2 separate regions of the Homo sapiens genome follow, and region 2 is linked to region 1. The links come from fine-mapping of genetic effects on gene expression. A gene starts in region 1. The other region holds a variant in brackets. All regions are shown on one strand. Distances are from middle to middle.

What was found. PIP is the estimated chance that this variant, and not a neighbour inherited with it, causes the effect.
Region 2: its variant is fine-mapped to the expression of ATG7 in skeletal muscle (GTEx, PIP above 0.99).

Annotation. Positions count from the first base shown.
Region 1 is chr3:11,269,007-11,278,266 of GRCh38, reverse strand. ATG7 (autophagy related 7) reads right to left here and starts at 5,870. Exons shown (of 21, transcript NM_001349232.2): 1 at 5,837-5,870. RefSeq lists enhancers at 5,085-5,674, 5,823-5,952, 5,675-6,266, 6,223-6,272.
Region 2 is chr3:11,218,995-11,228,254 of GRCh38, reverse strand. All of the region lies in intron 1 of HRH1 (histamine receptor H1), which reads right to left. LOC102723663 (a long non-coding RNA gene) reads left to right here and starts at 2,337. Exons shown (of 4, transcript XR_001740596.2): 1 at 2,337-2,555. RefSeq lists an enhancer at 2,158-2,452. The variant T/C (reference allele first, on the strand shown) is at 5,209.

The DNA.
Region 1 (9,260 bases):
ACTTTTATAATTTCTTATGCCTGTCTTTAATCTCTTAATCCTGTTATCTTTGTAAGCTGAGAATGTAAGTCACCTCAGGACCACTATTGTGTTAACTGTACAAATTGATTGTAAAACATGTGTGTTTAAACAATATGAAATCAGTGCACCTTGAAAAAGAACAGAATAACAGTGATTTTCAGGGAACAAGGGAAGACAACCATAAGGTCTGACTGCCTACAGGGTCAGGCAGAATACAGCCATATTTTTGTTCTTGCAGAGAGCCTATAAACAGACGTGCAAGTAGGGAAGATATCACTAAATTCTTTTCCTAGCAAGAAATATTAATAATTAAGACCCTGGGAAAGGAATGCATTCCTGGTGGGGGGGGGGGGGTCTATAAAGGGCCGCTCTGGGAGTGTCTGTCTTACGCAGTTGAGATAAGGACTGAAATATGCCCTGTTCTCCTGCAGTACCCTCAAGCTTACTAGGATTGGGAAACCCCACCCTGGTAAATTTGAGGTCAGACCAGTTCTCTGCTCTCGAACCCTGTTTTCTGTTGTTTAAGATGTTTATCAAGACAATACATACACTGCTGAACATAGACCCTTATCAGGAGTTTCTGATTTTGTCCTTGTCCTGTTTCCTCAGAAGCATGTGATCTTTGTGACCCACTCCCTGTTCGCACACCCCCTCCCCTTTTGAAGTCCTTAATAAAAACCTGCTGGTTTTGCAGCTCGGGTCGGCATCACAGTCCTACCAATATGTGATGTCACCCCCAGAGGCCCAGCTGTAAAATTCCTCTCTTTGTACTCTTTCTCTTTATTTCTCAGCCAGCTGACACTTATGGAAAATAGAAAGAACATACCTTGAAATATTGGGGGCAGGTTCCCCTGATAGAGTTCTGTATGGCAGCAAGGAGAGGCACATGGGGCAGAGTAGATGGACCATGCCATAAAAGCAGGCAAAGGCCATATCATGAAGAGCCTTATGTGAAAAGCTATGCAACTGTATTTCTGCATAGATCTCTATTTTAGTAAAGGCAATCCACAGCAGTGAGGACCAGACTGCTGAGGCAGGGCAACCAGCTGGGAGGCTGTGCAGAAAGACAGGCAAAAAGGGAGGGGAGCCTGAAATGAGGGAGCAAGGGAGGAAATGGAGGAGATGTGAGTCAGGAGATAGCAACAAAGTCGAATCTATAGAACTCTGATGACTACCTGGACTTGGAAGATGGAAAGGAGGGCTAGTACCAGAGGAAGAGTCTGAGATGACTCTCAGGGTTCTGTTTTGGATGACTAAATGAAAGGAGAGGAATTGGCAAGATTCAAGAATGGAGAAAGAACGGCAGGTTCAAAGGGAAGATGAGGAGCTTAGTTTTAGACTTGTTTGAGTTTGAGGGTAGCACTCAGGAGAGATTCGGGCTATGATACAGAACAGGGGTCATGAGCATATAAACAAGTTTGAAGCTGCGGTTGAAAAGAATATAGTAGAGGGCAGAGTCTTGGCAAAAATTGGCATGTGAGGGACAAAGGGGAAGAAAGGAGCCCACAATGGAAATTGAGGGACAAATGGCCAGAGAGATAATACAAAGTAGGACTGGGTTTTCCTAAGTGAGGGGCAAGGTCAGCAATGTCAGATGTGCCAAGAAAGATAAGAAGGAAAAGTGGTCAGGTATTCTGGCAATGTCGAGGTCTGATGACTTTGGGGAGTGGTGGGACGAGAGCAGGATTTTAGCAATGACTTAGGGAAGTACAGGAAGCAACTCTAGATAACTCTTCCAAGAAAGGTGGCTGGGTAAAAGAGGTGTGACAGGGTGCAGCATAGGTTAATTGGAGGGTTTTTGTTTTTTCCAAAATGAGAGTAAACAGAGAATATTTAAATGAGAAGGGTTGATGAAACAGAAAAGAAAATGAACAAATGATGGAACCCAGTCCTTGAGGCAAAGGAGGCGATGGGATCTCAAGCACAAATAGAGGACTTAGTCTTAAAACACCATTTCTTTCACAGAATTAGAATAAAAGGCAAAAGGATAGGGTCAGCTAAAGATCAGTTGGTAAAGGATAGAAGAGGAAGCTGCGATGCCTTAATTAATGGCTGCAACTTAGTGGAGCAAAAGTCAAGGTAGGAGGTTGAGGAGAGGAATGAATATGAGGAAGACATAAAGGGAAATGGACAAGAGAGCTGCCTGAGGATATGGGGAGGGCTGAGCCACGCTGAGGGCCTATTTGGTGGCACACTAGTGTAATAGTGTCAAAAGCACAATGTGTCTATAATGGAGCTGGCAGGGCTTTAGGTTACCACAAGAAAAGTGCAGTCTTGCTCTGCATGGTTAGAGTCCTCAAGGAAAGAGGATTTCCTTTCTGTACCACACACTCAAAGAGAGGCTGACAAACCAGAGCAAGTTCAAGGATGGTAACTGGGATGAAGGTGTGAGGAAATCCCAAAAGTGATCATTCTGAAGCCGGTCTGAGATGGAGTGAATAGGCTATTCCTCAGTCTGCCAAGATCATGGTAATACCTACTGACTACCAATTAACAGAGCAGCACCTCCAGTATTTATTGTCCCTTGATTATACAATCAGGCCTTAATCGCACTGGAGAAGGGTGGGGAGATCAGGAGATAGAAAGGGGAGAGGAAGCGGTGGCTCACGCCTGTAATCTCAGCACTTTGAGAGGCTGAGGCAGGCGGATCACGAGGTCAGGAGATGGAGACCATCCTGGCTAGCACAGTGAAACCCCATCTCTACTAAAAAAAAAAAAAAAAAAAAAAAATTAGCCGGGCATGGTGGTGGGCACCTGTAGTCCCAGTTCCTGGGGAGGCTGAGGCAGGAGTATGGAGTGAACCCAGGAGGCAGAGCTTGCAGTGAGCCGAGATCGTGCCACTGCACTCCAGCCTGGGCGACAGAGTGAGACTCCATCTCAAAAAAAAAGAAAAAAAAAAAAAGAGGAGAGGAAGACATTAGCGAACGTCATTTCCATGGGTAGAAGTGGACGACAGAGGCAAACTGAATTCCAAATAAAATCAGAGGTCAGGGTTAATCTATTAGAGACACTAGTCAAAGAATTTTGTTACTGCTCAATTCCACACAGCAAATTCATTTCTGCCCTCCCGTCATCAGGATCCTGATTCTTGTCCCCTTCTTCTGTTTCATCCTATCAGTTACCAAGTCCAGCAAATTCCACCTCCTTAATCTCTCAACTCCTCCCACTCCTCTCCATCTCCACTGTCACTGCCTTCATCCAGATCTTCATCCTGTCACCTGGATCACTGCAACTATACCCAACTGGTCCCCTGCTTGTCTTTTTCTGTCCAGTGTAATCACCACATTGCTGCCTGGGTAATTTAAAACAGATGAGAGGATGTCGCATCTGTTTTAAAATCTTCAGTGTCCTGCTCTCCACCCCCGCCCCCACATTTTAGAGTCCAAACTTCTGGGCCTGGCAATATTAATGACTACTGTTTATTGAGTATTTATCATCTACCAGTGTCAAGTGAGTAACATATCACCTCGTACAGTTTTTATTTCCCCTTCTTAGAGATGAGGAAACTGAAGCTTAGAAAGAAGTGACTTGCCCAGGGTCACAAAACTAGTTCAGTGGCAATGGGAATATTGGTACGCAGCTATCTTGGATCCCAAAGTCTATGTGCGGGTAACATGCTATTGTCCACAGGGCCCTTCACGATGTGGCTAGTGCTTACCTTTCCAGTCACCTCTCATCCTACACCTCCACACTGGCACTCCAGTGAACCACAAGCAGGCCATGCATTCTCACCTCTAGCCCTTTGCTCATCTCACTTCGAACCACTCTTCACCTGTCAGATCTCGTTCGTCCTTCAGGTCTTGGCTAAAGCAGCACCTCCTCACTGAAACCTTCTCTGATGAGTCAGCCTGACTTATGCGTACCCTAAGTCCTCCTCTACCAAACCTCCGCAATAGCTTCATGCCATACCGTTGCTATCTCCTTGGCTTAAAAAAAAAGTAAACTCTTTGAGGACAGGGATGTGTATCTTACTCATTTTTGTATTCCCAGCTTGCAGCGCAGTGCCAGACACACAGCTGAAGCTCAATAAATGTTTATTCTCTATAATGAGATGCTGGCTGGGAACGAAAAACGGAACCTGTGGTTGAGTAATGGAAAGTCCAGTACTCAGCTCTTAAAGGATTTCAAAATCATGTCACATGAGGGCAGGAAGGAGTTGGCCAAGATAAATGGAAGAGGAAGGGGAGATGTTCGAAGCAGCAGAAGCAAAGGGCTATAGGTGACACACACCTGCAAGCAGCTTAACAAGACTGGAGCAGCGTTGGGGGATGGGAAAGCAGTTTAGCAACATGAGCCATTCCAAGACTGGACTTTTCTTTATTCAAGTGTTAGGTCACTTCCTCAGGGAAGCCATCCCTGACTAGCTAGCTTTTATGCTTCCCCCCAATTACTGTCCATCCCATGACCCTGTACGTTTCAGAATCGGAAACACCTACCAACCCTTACTGACAATGCCGCCACCGCCACCACCACCACTATTATTAGAAGGTGCCATGAAACAGGGTTCTTTTTCTTCTTATTTTACTGATAGATCACCAGTGCCCACAATAATGCCAGGCACATAACAGGCAAATATTTGTTTTATTCATTCATCCAACAAATATTTATTGAGCATATATAATATGCTAGGCATTGCTCTATATGCTGGGGATATAACAAAACATGACAAAATTTGCTGTCACTGTTAAGTTTACTATGAGCAAATACATTAAATATGCTTAGCCTAGAGAAGAAAAGGTGAGAAGAGGAAGACAAACTAGCAGCTTTCAATGATGTATAGGGCAATTAAATGCAGGGGTGATTCCAAGAGCCTGAAGGAGGAACAGTGAGCTAAGATTACCGAGTAGCTGCTTTCAGCTCAACCTAAGAGTCAGAACTGGGGGAGGACCAAACAGGAGCAACCAGAAGTAGAAAGCTTTCTGTCACTGAAGAAATCTGGCCAGTGGGCAGAGGTGTCAGAGAAAAAAATCTAAGTAGTCAATGAAAAAGGGAGTCTGGGATCCAGAGGTCCCAAACTGACAGCCACAGATATGACTGGTTACAGTTGAACAGGGTTTTGTAAAAACTGAGTTGCCAATGTTTTTAAACGCCAGAATTACTTGCCAATTTTTAAAAAATGGCATCAGTCGCCAGTGTTTAAAAATCAGGAAACTGCACGCACGTGCACACACACACGGTTTGGCTTGTACTTCTCCAACATCATGTACGTTAGTACTGTACTTATAAAATTAGAAGTTTGACTCTATTTCTGACAAATGTTCTAACACCTATATTTACCTTACCGGATTGATTCTTATTGTGCATTAGTTTCTAACCCTGTAACCAAGGAATCGAGAATCTTCTTTCTCAGAAAGTAAACTTATTTAACCTCCTCACTTAAACAAATGGCGGATTATCATTCCCATTTTGCAGATGGAAAAGCAGCTTAGATGGGGAAGGAACGTGCCAGAGACAGCAAATCCAGACACAGCCAGGCTGGGAATCCAAATGTCCCATCTCCCGTGTTCCAACACTGAAGATTCTGAGCACTGCCTACCAAGAGGACAGGAGGGGCTGACTTAGGAAATCAGCACGAGCTTCCAAGTCAGAAGACCCCGGACTGAACCAGTCTGAGGGGACGCGGCTACAGACGAAGGGCGCCAGCCGGAATCAGTGAGTCCCTGGAGGAGGAAGGACCACCCAGAAACTGGCAGAGGAGGATCCTGAGACTTGCTGTGACCCTCGCCCTCCCTGGCGAGCTCGCCCCTTGACTCCAGGCCTCCAAAACCGGCCCAGCAAGACCCCACTACACCCTCGCCCGCCGCGGCTCACTTACCGCCGCTCAACTTCCGGCAACCACAGCTCTCTCTGAGGCGCGCGCCCCGATGACGCAACGCGGTCCTGCCCGCGCTTGCCACTGGGAAGCGGCGCGCGTGCGCAAAGGAGCAGAGGCATGCCGGGGAAATGCGCCCCTAGCACCGAGCTAAGTGGGAGGAACTTGAGTCGTGAGGAGGGCGGGGCATCAGGGGGCGGTGACGCCCCCGGGGGAAGCGATGGAGAGCGTCTCCCTTACCAGATGTCGGAATGTCTACATTCCCTTCAGGCTTTTAAGAAAGTGCCCACGTTCTCTCTTTTGATTTCAGAGGATGACAGGAATGATCACCATGGTCATTCTCCAGGAGAGGCGGCATCAAACGCAGCACAGGGGCCATCAGGGTGGCAGGTGTGGAGAGCCAGGAGATGAGAATTTTAGTAGGAAAAGGCCAGTGAACGTCGACAGTGACCAACCTGCCTTTTCTAAACCAGCCATCATTCTCACAGCTCCTCACTGTCAGTGAGATAAAGTTATTCCCTCTCAATACTTGGTTAGATACTCTGCGCGTGCAAAGCACTGGACAGGTGTTGAAGATACAGCAGTGATTATGACAAGTTTCTCTGTCTGGCCTGTAAGGCCTTTCACAAATTAACTCTGATATACCACTCTAGACTCATAACAACAAGAGCGATGACTGCTATTAATTAACTAGCCACCATGTTTTCAGGGTTTTACATCTCTAATCCTCACAAGAGTCCTGAAACATATCCCCAAGTTATATATGAAAGAACAGAATCTAAGAAAAGTTAGGTGGCTTGCTGAAAGTTAAAGGGCTTTTGGGCCAGGAACGTAATCTGAAGTTTGTTTGATTCTGGCAAATAAGAAAACAAATCCAGACTAATAAGGATACTTATTAGAAAGGATTACTGCAGGCCCGGCGCGGTGGCTCACGCCTGTAATCACAGCACTTTGGGAGGCCGAGGCGGGCGGATCACGAGGTCAGGAGATCGAGACCATCCCGGCTAAAACGGTGAAACCCCGTCTCTACTAAAAATACAAAAAAATTAGCCGGGCGTGGTGGCGGGCGCCTGTAGTCCCAGCTACTTGGGAGGCTGAGGCAGGAGAATGGCGTGAACCCGGGAGGCGGAGCTTGCAGTGAGCCGAGATCCCACCACTGCACTCCAGCCTGGGCGACAGAGCGAGACTCCGTCTCAAAAAAAAAAAAAAAGAAAGGATTACTGCAAGAAGTGAGAGAGGTGGGAGAGAAGGAACCGTGCAATAGCAGAGGGAGACTATTGCAATAGTGAGATCACTCTGACCAAAACATCCGCAGATGTTTCAATGGTTAGGGAAAAAGAGGGTTCCCCCACCCCCCACCCTCCCCAAAGGCAGGTAAACAAGGCTGGAAACAACCGAATATGGGAAGTGGGATGAAGGGGTGGCTTGATCAGATAGTAGATTAGAGAATGTTTTATCTTGAGGCCAACCTATTCTCAGTAGGGGTTGTGTGTGTCAGTCTCTGAGCCCAAGCTAAGCCATCATATCCCCAGTGACCTGCACGTATACATCCAGATGGCTTGCAGCAACTGAAGATCCGCAGAAGTGAAAATAGCCTTAACTGATGACATTCCACCATTGTGATTTGTTTCTGCCCCACCCTAACTGATCAATGTACTTTGTAATCTCCCCCACCCTTAAGAAGGTTCTTTTATAGTCTCCCCCACCCTTAAGAAGTTTCTTTGTAATTCTCACCACCCTTGAGAATGTACTTTGTGAGATCCACCCCCTACCCCCAAAACATTGCTTTTAACTCCACCGCCTATCCCAAAACCTATAAGAACCAATGATAATCCCACCACCCTTTGCTGACTCTCTTTTTGGACTCAGCCCACCTGCACCCAGGTGAAATAAACAGCCTTGTTGCTCACACAAAGCCTGTTTGGTAGTCTCTTCACACGGACACATGAGACAGTATGCTAGTTCAAGCTGAGAGTAGGTTAAAGTAAGGAGCCTGGGGAAAGGAAAGAAGCTTAACCCAAGTTTGGTTAATAAGCATTTTTTCCAACTGGTCAATGGAGACAAGCAGCTCTGTAATCATTTATGAGGCAAAGAATGGGAATTCAGAAGGACTGTGTTTGACCTTGCCACAGTAAACAAGGGAGGCAACCAGGAGTCATTTAAGTGACATGAGAATGGGTATTTCTTTGTAGTGAACATTTTCTGAAGCACAAAAAGGTTAAGAAAGATTTCTCTTTTTTGCTTTATCTTTTTTTTTTTTTTTTTTTGAGACGGGGTCTCCCTCTGTTACCCAGGATAGAGTACAGTGGAGTGATCATAGCTCACTGCAGACTCAACCTCCTGAGCTCCAGGGATCCTCCCACCTCAGCCTCCTGAGTAGCTGGGACTACAGGTGCATGCCATCATGCCGGGCTAATTTTCTCATTTTTTGTAGAGACTGGGTCTTGCTATGTTGCCAGGGCTGGTCTTGAACTACTGGACTCAAGTGATCCTCCCACCTTCACCTCACAAAGTGCTGGGAATACAAGTGTGAGCCACCTTGCCCAGCAAGGATTTCTTTTTCCTTTTTTTTTTTTTTTTTGAGACGGAGTCTCGCTCTGTCACCCAGGCTGGAGTGCAGTGGCACAATCTTGGCTCACTGCAAGCTCCGCCTCCCAGGTCCATGACATTCTCCTGCCTCAGCCTCCCAAGTAGCTGGGACTATAGGCGCCCACCACCTCGCCCGGCTAATTTTTTGTATTTTTAGTAGAGACAGGGTTTCACCATGTTAGCCAGGATGGACTCGATCTCCTGACCTCATGATCCACCCGCCTCAGCCTCCCAAAGTGCTGAGATTACAGGTGTGAGCCACCACGCCCAGCCTTTTTTTTTTATTTATTTATTTTTTTGAGATGGAGTTTCACTCTTGTTGCCCAAGCTGGAGTGCAATGGCGCAATCTTGGCTCACTGCAACCTCCACCGCCCGGGTTCAAGCGATTCTTCTGCCTCAGCCTCCCAAGTAGCTGGGATTACAGGTGCATGCCACCACACCCGGCTAATTTTTTGTATTTTTAGTAGAAACGGAGTTTTACCATGTTAGCCCGCCTGATCTCAAACTCCTGACCTCAGGTGATCTGCTCACCTCGGCTTCCCAAAGCGCTGCGATTACAGGCGTGAGCCACTGCACCTGGCCAAGAAGGATTTCTTAACCTTTACTGTCAGAGGCATTTGAACCAGAATGACTCCATCTTGAATAGGGGCTGAGTAAAGTAAGGCTGAGACCTATTGGGCTGCATTCCCAGGAGGTTGGGCATTCTTACTCACAGGATAAAACTGGAGATCAGGGTATGACAGAGGTCACAAAGACCTTGCTGATAAAGGTTGTGCTAAAGAAACGTGCCAAAACCCACCAAAACCAAAATGGTGACGAGAGTGACCTCTGGTCATC
Region 2 (9,260 bases), 50 kb after region 1:
GAGCCACTGTGCCTGGCCTGGATTTTTAAAACTCTCCAGATGGTTCCAATGCAACCAATATTGTGAATCACTTTCCTAACTAAAGCTGAATTATGGTAGGAGGAGTTCAGTAAGTGATGAATGAATAAGTAGATGAATCCTGCCTTTAACGCACCACAGTTCTGACCCAACATGACCACATTCAGAGTTTCATGTTATGCTAATTCATTAATATATTCAGGAACTATTAATTAAACAATAATGTGGTACCAGGTATTATGCTAGGCCAAGCCACTAGAGATGGAAATGTGAATAAGACTCCCAATTCTCCCCTCGTTTTTGATATGCCTTAGGGATGGCTGGGGCCTGTCCTAGTTCATCCAAGAACTTTCTGTCCTGCTGATTAATTGGCCAGCTCCAACAGCAATCATTTCCCTAGTAACTGATAGCAAATCTTACTTCTGGCTGCTTCCTCAGGCAAGTGCTATCTAAGGACAGACTCTATTCACTCTCAGAGAGAGGAAGTTCCTAGGGGGTGTGGGCAAGTCAAGAAACCACAAAGAAAGTGGTCTTGTCTAGATCTCTTCAAGCACTCCAGAAGTGAAAGGAAGATGCTCAGGTGCAGACCAGAGTCCTGTGCAGCTCAGACAGGCCTCCTTCTGGGTGTGTATTTACATAATGAAAAGGTAAGGCCGGGCGTGGTGGCTCACGTCTGTAATCCCAGCACTTTGGGAGGCTGAGGTGGGCAGATCACCTAGGTCAGGAGTTTGAGACCAGCCTGGACAACATGGGGAAACCTCGTCTCCACTAAAAATACAAAAATTAGCCAGGCGTGGTGGCGGGCGCCTGTAATCTCAGTTACTTGGGAGGCTGAGGCAGGAGAATTGCTTGAACCAGGGAGGCGGAGGCTGCAGTGAGCTGATATCACGTCACGGCACTCCAGCCTGGGGGACAGAGCGAGACTCCGCCTGAGGAAAAAAAAAAAAAAAGATCTTAATCACCCCATAGGCAAATGGCATTTCCTTCCCAACCACTACGGTTCCATGCTCAGACCTACTTCAAAACTCTGCACTACAGGTGACTGAAGAGCAGAGATGATGTCCATGTGGGGTCACCCCTGTTCTGTTCTGCTGCAGACTTTGACAACATCGTCTCTCAACTGCTGTCACAGCTTCCTAACTGGTCTTTCTGCTCCTGGTTTTGGCCTCTTTCACACAGAAGCCAAATGATCTTTCTAAAACCACAAATCCAGTTCCCCTACTCAAAACTCTTTAATGGCTGGCCACTGTTGTCAGGATATACAGAAGCACCCTGGCCCCACATGTGTGATACAAGGGTAACAACCCAAATAAAGTCTACACATGGTATCTTCTTTTTTTTTTTTTTTTTTAGACTGAGTCTTGCTCTGTCACCCAGGTTGTAGTGCAATGGTGCCATCTCGGCTCACTACGACCTCTGCCTCCCAGGTTCAAGTGATTCTCGTGCCTCAGCCTCCTGAGTAGCTGGGATTACAGGCACCCACCATGACACCTGGCTATTTTTTTGTATTTTTAGTAGAGACGGGGTTTCACCATGTTGGCCAGGCTGGTCTCCAACTCCTGACCTCAAGTGATCCACCCGCGTCAGCCTCCCAAAGTGCTGGGATTACAGGCATAAGTCACCACGCCTGGCCCCATGATCACATTAAAAAGAAATTCAAGTCCAACATCCAGAAAATAAAACGATATGGAAAAGTAACTTCAACCTTTACTGAAGACTCTCAAAGAGGCAAAACCATCACAAAGAACTTCTCCCATCTGTCGCTACATAGCGCCAGCTACAGCATCACCTGCTCATCCTCAAATCTTCCTGCTCTCTCTCTCAAAAACTTCAGGTTGCCTTGGTTCCCCTTTAATTCCCTTTTCCCTTCTTTCACCCACTCTTCAATCTTTCTGATTTATGGAAGAGTATCATGTAATTTCTAATATAAATGAACTTAGCTTTCCCAGTGCCCTCTTTTCTTTACTCATTACTCTAATCAGCCTGGCAAATGCCCACGAGATAAGCAAACAGGTCTACTCCGGAAACGGAGGGAGGGTGCCGGGCAGTGGCTAGTATATGTCAATACCTTCGACCCATCACACAGAGCTTTTTCCACCTGGTCTCACCTTACTGTGCAGCCTCATCTCTGATTCTCCACTCTCCCCAAATAGGCCCTGCTCGTGTACACCCCATACCTTTACAAATGCTGCTCTCCTGCCGGGAATGCCTGTTCTCATCCTCTTACCCTGGCAAGACATTCAGTTAGTTCTTTACAACCCAGTTCTGATGTCACTTCCTTTTAGTCATTCATCCGTCCCTCTGGGCTGGGTTAATTCACTTCCTTCTCCAGGGCTTCGCTGAACTCTGCACAGACCTCAATTACAACCCTTATAAAGCTGGGTTGTGGTCGGGTGCGGTGGCTCATGCCTGTAATCCCAGCACTTGGGAGACTGAGGCATGTGAGTCGCCTGAACCCGGGAGGCAGAGGTTGAAGTGAGCCGAGATCGTGCCACTGCACTCCAGCCTGGGCGACAGAGCGAGACTCCGTCTCAAAAGTAAGTAAGTAAATAAATAAATAATAAAGCTAGGTTGTAATTCCTTAATTACTGATCAGACTTTTTTCACTAGACTGTGGGTGTCACATGTGGGTCTGAGTCATCTCTGTGTCCTCAGAGCCAAGAAGTGGGGAGGTGCTTAATGAAGTTACTGAATGCTCCAGAAATATGTTCCCGTCACTGAGTGCTCCAAAGAGGCATTCACCTGTCTCCTCTTCCCTGATCATCCCTCGGGGCTACCTGGAGTGCCTGCCAGATCAGAGTTTGAGAGATCTGCCCTGGCAGTCGCCTGACTAGGCCTACATATCTTCCCGTGTCTGGCCAGCCTTCCAGAGAGCAGTCTGTCCCTCTCTCCGACTCCAGCCGGCCAGGCCTGGTTCTCACATTGTCAAAAATAAAAGGAGTTAAAAGAAGCCAAGCGATTAGGCAAGAAAAGGAAATGAAGGCATCCAGACTTGAAGGAAAGAAGTGAAACTATTTGAAGATAACATGGTCTTGTTTGTAGAAAATCCTGGGGAATCTACAAGAAAATTTTTAGAACTCACAAATGAGTTCCAGGGGCCCAAGTCCTCAGTTTGGCTTTGAAGGGGTCCCTTGGTCTCCTGGCCCTGCTCCCCCTTTCCTGTGGCACTTCCCAGCACTCCTCCTGTGAGTGGCTCTTAGCAGCCGCAGTGGAGCATCCACTTTGACGTTGCCTACTTTCCCCTCTCTTCTCCCTGCCTGGGTAGAGCCTTTGAAGAGCTTCTGTCTCATCTTCACCTCATCCCTAAAGTCCTTAAATAAGGGGCATATTTATCGAGGATAAGAATTGGACCTGTGTTATCTCATTCAATCCCCACAGCAACCTTTGGAAGTGGGAACTGTAATTATCACCCCCATTTTTCAGATGAGGCTCTGGGAACCTATGCCCCTGGTCCAACCTCACAGTTATGAGGCCCACTGGGCTTGAAAGCAAGGGCTGCCTGACTCCAACATCCAATTTCTTTTTTTTTTTTTTTTTGAGATGGAGTCTCGCTCAGTCGCCCAGGCTGGAGTGCAGTGGCGCATACTCGGCTCGCTGCAAGCTCCGCCTCCTGGGTTCACGCCATTCTCCTGCCTCAGCCTCCCGAGTAGCTGGGACTACAGGTGCCCACCACCATGCTCGGCTAATTTTTTTTGTATTTTTTAGTAGAGACCGGGTTTCACCGTGTTAGCCAGGATGGTCTCGATATCCTGAACTCATGATCCGCCTGCCGCGGCCTCCCAAAGTGCTGGGATTACAGGCGTGAGCCACCGCGCCCGGCCCTCCAACATCCAATTTCTTAACCCGAAATTTGGAAAGAGAAGTGAGGCCCTATTCTAATGCTTCCTCCCCTAGCTAGATGTATCTCTTCTTTCCCTGACCCAGACTCCAAGGCTGATAAGCTATCAGTGTGTAGAGCTGACTCTGTACTGTGATCATTTATGCAGAGCTTTTCTCTCCCCTGTTTGGCTGGAAGATCCATGGGAGCAGAGGCCACGTCTTATTCAGCCTCACATGCTAGAACTGCTTGGCACATGGTAGGCATGCACATTGCACGGCTTCAGAAAGAGTGAAATGAGATGGTTGAGGCACAATACACTAAAGAGAACAAATGTGTGTTCTCTTTTGCATGCACAGGAGAGATGGCCTCAATCATATTTGGGGTGTCAGGATGATGTGGCTGGAACATGTCATGGGGAAAGGCCATCCTCCTCCTTGCTGACAGTGCCCTCTGTGTCCCCTCAAGGCTGCGGAAGAGTCATCCTGGAGAGAAGGGCCCAGTCTTCAGGGCAAGGATTTGTGTGCTCATCTTTGTTTACTGTGTGTTTGGCACAGTAGAAAATATTTGTTGAATGAATTTGCTGTGTGACGCTGAACCCTTCTCTCAACTTCTCCAGGCCTCCTCTGTTAAACAAGGGGGTTGCTCAAGATTAGGGATTTTTCAAACATTTCCCTTTCCCCCTTTTCTTGGTAGCGCAACTACTGGTTTATGTAACAATTTATATAAGACAGAAGCAGCTTGCTGCTGTAGCTGGAGTGGAGTGGGGGAACCCAGAGCCCTGTCTACTTGACTCCCCCTCTTTGCCCCACACTCCCCAGAGGCCCCTCAGAGCAGCTAGAGAACAGTCAAGCTGGAGGAACTCTAAAGGGTGTTGAAATTCGGAGAGCTCTGTAAGGAGCGTCCACATTTTTTTTTTTTGAGATGGAGTCTCGCTCTGTCGCCCAGGCTGGAGCGCAGTGGCGCCATCTCTGCTCACTGCAAGCTCCGCCTCCTGGGTTCACACCATGCTCCTGCCTCAGCCTCTCGAGTGGCTGGGACTACAGGCGCCCGCCACCACCCCCGGCTGATTTTTTTTTTTTGTATTTTTAGTAGAGATGGGGTTTCACCATGTTAGCCAGGATGGTCTCGATCTCCTAACCTTGTGGTCCACCTGCCTCAGTCTCCCAAAGTGCTGGGATTACAGGCATGAGCCACTGTGCCTGGACTTTTTTTTTTTTTTTTTTTTTTTTTTTTGAGACGAAGTCTCGCTTTGTCGCCAGGCTGGAGTGTGATGGTGCGATCTCGACTCACTGCAACCTCTGCCTCCTGGATTCAAGCGATTCTCCTGCCGCAGCTTCCTGAGTAGCTGGGACTACAGGCACGCGCCACCA[T/C]GCCCAGCTAATTTTTGTATTTTTAGTAGAGGTGGGGTTTCACCATGTTGGCCAGGATAGTCTTGATCTCTTGACCTCATGATCCGCCTGCCTTGGCCTCCCAAAGTGCTAGGATTACAGGCGTGAGCCACCGCGCCCGGCTGGAGCGTCTGCATTTTAAAAGAGTGGCTCTGAAAAGAGAAAATCCTTTACCACACATTTGGACAACTATTATTTAATGCGCTTGAATGGTGGAATGTAAGGGCCTTGATTAGGAGTGGGAGGGTGTAGTGTTGTCTTAGGATGGAGAGTTTATGTTTCCCAGGACCTCTAAACGCCCCCTGGGTCTAGGGGGCCACTAGTTCTGCCTTACTATTTGTGCAAGTGGGCCCTGACGCACAGCTCGCCAGCAGACACTCGGCCGCTGTACTTTCCCGTCAGCCTGCCATCTTCTTCTTCTCAGTGGCTATCTGCTTCACTCCTGCTTTTCTCCATTGATTTTTCCCTCCTCTTGTTTTCCAGAACTCACAAAAACCTCCACTGGTTCTAAGCATTTTACATAGTGCTGTGAACTTGCTGGAGGAAGTGGAATAAATGGATGCGTGATAGGCAAATCGCCCTAGATTTTGGTATTTGAGTTAAAATTCCACACAACACCTGGGATATATAATCACACAGAAACCACTTAGCTTCTTGTGAAAACAATCACAGAGTCTAGGAAATGGAAAAATAATCATAGTTTTCATAAATTGTTCCCATGAGGACCTGCTCAATGCTGGGAAGTTCCAGCTGTGCACACTTCCAGCTGTGGCTGCACCCACCCTCACTCCCACCCCGTCCTGTGCCTCCTGCCACCTTGCTATTTACCCAGTTCCTGACTGTGGGTGTTCAAGAGAGCTATTAAGTGACTACTGGTATCTAGCCGAGATGCTCCCCTGTACAATCTGAACAACTACACCATCACTGGAATAAAGGATTACTGGACACTTTTAAAGAGAAACTGATATACTCATGTTCATAGCAGCATTATTCACAATAACCAGAAGGTGGAAGCAACCCACATGTCCATCAGCAGATGAATGGGGAAACAGAATGTGGTCCTCACATACCATGGAATATTTTTAAGCCTTAAAAAAGGAAGGGCATCTGGCACGTGGTATCACCTGGATGAACCTTGAGGACATTCTGCTAAGTAAAATATGCCAATCAGAGAAAGAGAAATACTGCATGATTCCACTTATATAAAGTCCCTAGAGCCATCAAATTCATAGAGATAAAAAGTGGAATGGTGGCTGCCGGGGGCTGCGGGAAGGAGGAAAGGGGAGTTAGTGTTTAATGGGTACAGAATTTCAGTTTTGCAAAGTGAAGAGTTCTGGAGGTGGATGGTGGTGATGGGTGGTGATGGGCACATGATTGCATGGTTGTGAATGTAGTTAGTGTCACTGAACCGTGCATATAAAATGGTTAAACTCGTAAGTATTATGGATATATATATATACATTTTTTTTTTTTTGAGATGGAGTCTCGCTCCGTTGCCCAGGCTGGAGTGCAATGGCGTGATCTCGGCTCACTGCAACCTCTGCCTCCTGGGTTCAAGCGATTCTCCTGCCTCAGCCTCCCAAGTAGCTGGGATTACAGGTGCATGCTGCCATGGCCGGCTAATTTTTTTTGTATTTTAGTAGAGACAGGGTTTCACCGTGTTGCCCAGGCTGGTCTTAAACTCCTGAGCCCAGGCAATCCACCCACCTCGGCCTCCCAAAGTGCTAGGATTATAGGCATGAGCCACTGCACCTGGCCCCGTGTTACAGATATTTTACCACAATTAAAAATAAATAAATAAATGAGAAACTAAACAGCTCCTTAAAGCACTTTGACAAGGTCTAACATTAAAGGATTTGTCAACTTAAGGGCATCTTAAGAAGAAATCCTCCTGGGAATTCATGGTAGACTGAATGGAGGTGTCTTGTGGTAGACAGCATTGATTGAGTTGTTACACTTTAAACCAAATTTTCTTATAAACTCATATTCCCACGCCCAGATACTTTGGGGGTAGTGACTCCAGAGAGTCTATTTAACATTGAACTTGATTTCTCCTTCTCATCTCAGTTAAAGAATTGGGGATTCGTCTCTTTTATGCCCCTGGGGAAGCAGGATTCTGAATAAAACTGACTGTCTCTGTGATTGGTTTTCTTTTTTTGTTATTGACATAGAACAATCATAAAATCATGAAATGCAGCAAAATAATGTGTACATTATTATTTTACTTATATAAAACAGAGAAATGCAGGGGGAAAAAGTGAATCTTTGAGAGGTAGGCCACCCTTCCCTGGGGTTGCTATAATGAACCTCAACTTGTCTGTTCTTTAAGTTCAGCGCAGCCCGATAAAGGAGGGCAAACAAGGTTTACAAGAGGCAGCCCAACAAGAAGGGTAAAACCAGCATGATCTTCCCTGCACAGGATGACGGAAACCAATTTACCGTCTCAGCTGTGTGTCTAAGGTGCATTTTCACCTGCCGGTGTGCATGGGCAGCCCTGCAGCTCCACACCGCCTCTTGCTAGTTGCCTGCTGGAGTGGCTGCAGGCTCTGCACTGGGTTGTAGGAAACCCAAGCACCGGCAGCCTCATTCCTAAGCCCCTTGCATACCAACAAACAGGACACTGCACCTCAGCAGTACTGTTCTCACAGAGGACAGGGATTCTCAGGACAGTGATGAGGTAACCGGCCTCAGAGACAGGCGGCTTTACCAAGACTATACAGCAAGTCAGGGTTGGAGCTGACAGTGGCACTTGGGGTTTCTTAGACCCAGGTCCAATTCTTTTTGGAACGAAACAACTAACATATATAGCAGTTACCCCAGGCCAGGCGTGGTGTTAGGGGATTGATAGGTATTGTTTTATTAAAGTCCCACCACAATGCTAGGAGGTAATTACTATTACAATTACTTTTCCAGATTACTAATTGAGTCTTAGAGAGCTTAAGTAATTTGCCAAAAGTCACGGAGCTAACAAAAGGCAGAATCTGGATTTTAACCTTGGTCTGCGTGACTACTCTGTTTGTAGCCAATACTTCCTTCCTTTTTCAGAAAAATTTATTGTAAAAAAAAAAAAAAAAAAAACAACACATTAAGTTACCACAATTAAAATAAATAAGAAAGAAACTAAACAGCTCCTTAAAGCATTTTGACAAGGTCTAACATTAAAGGATTTGTCAATTTAAGGTCATCTTAGGAAGAAATCTTCCTGGGAATTCAGGGTAGACTGAATGGACGTGTCTTGCAGCAGATACCAGTGCATTGATTGAATTGTTACACATTAAATTAAATTTTCTTTCCTTTTTTTTTTTTTTTTTTTTGAGATGAAGTCTCAACTCTTATTGCCCGAGCTGGAGTGCAGTGGCATAAACTCAGTTCACTGCAAGCTCCACCTCCCGGGTCCAAGCGATTCTCCTGCTTCAGCCTCCCAAGTAGCTAGGACTGCAGGCACACACCACCATTCCCAGCTAATTTTTGTATTTTTAGTAGAGACGGGGGTTTCACTATGTTGGCCAGGCTGGTTTTGAACTCCTGACCTCGTGCTCCGCCCGCCTCGGCCTCCCAAAGTGCTGGGATTACAGGCATGAGCCACCGTGCCCAGCCTATTTATTTTTAACTGTGGCAAAATACCTACACTAAAACACTTACCACTTTAACCATTTTACATGCACAGTTCAATGATACTAACTACATTCACAACCACGCAACCATGAACTCATCGCCACCATCCATCTCCAGAATTCTTATAATAATCCATTAATTCATGTGCTAGGTTTGTATGGTTTTCTGGAGTCACTGCTCCCTGAGGTATTTAGACATGGCAATATGAATTTATAAGAAAATTTAGGCCAGGCGCGGTCGCTCACTCCTGTAATCCCAGCACTTTAAGAGGCTGAGGTGGGTGGATCACGAGGTCAGGAGTTCAAGACCAGCCTGGCCAACATAGTGAAACCCTGTCTCTACTAAAAATACAAAAAATTAGCTGGGCATGGTAGCTTATGCCTGTAATCCCAGCTACTCAGAGGCTGAGGCAGGAAAAT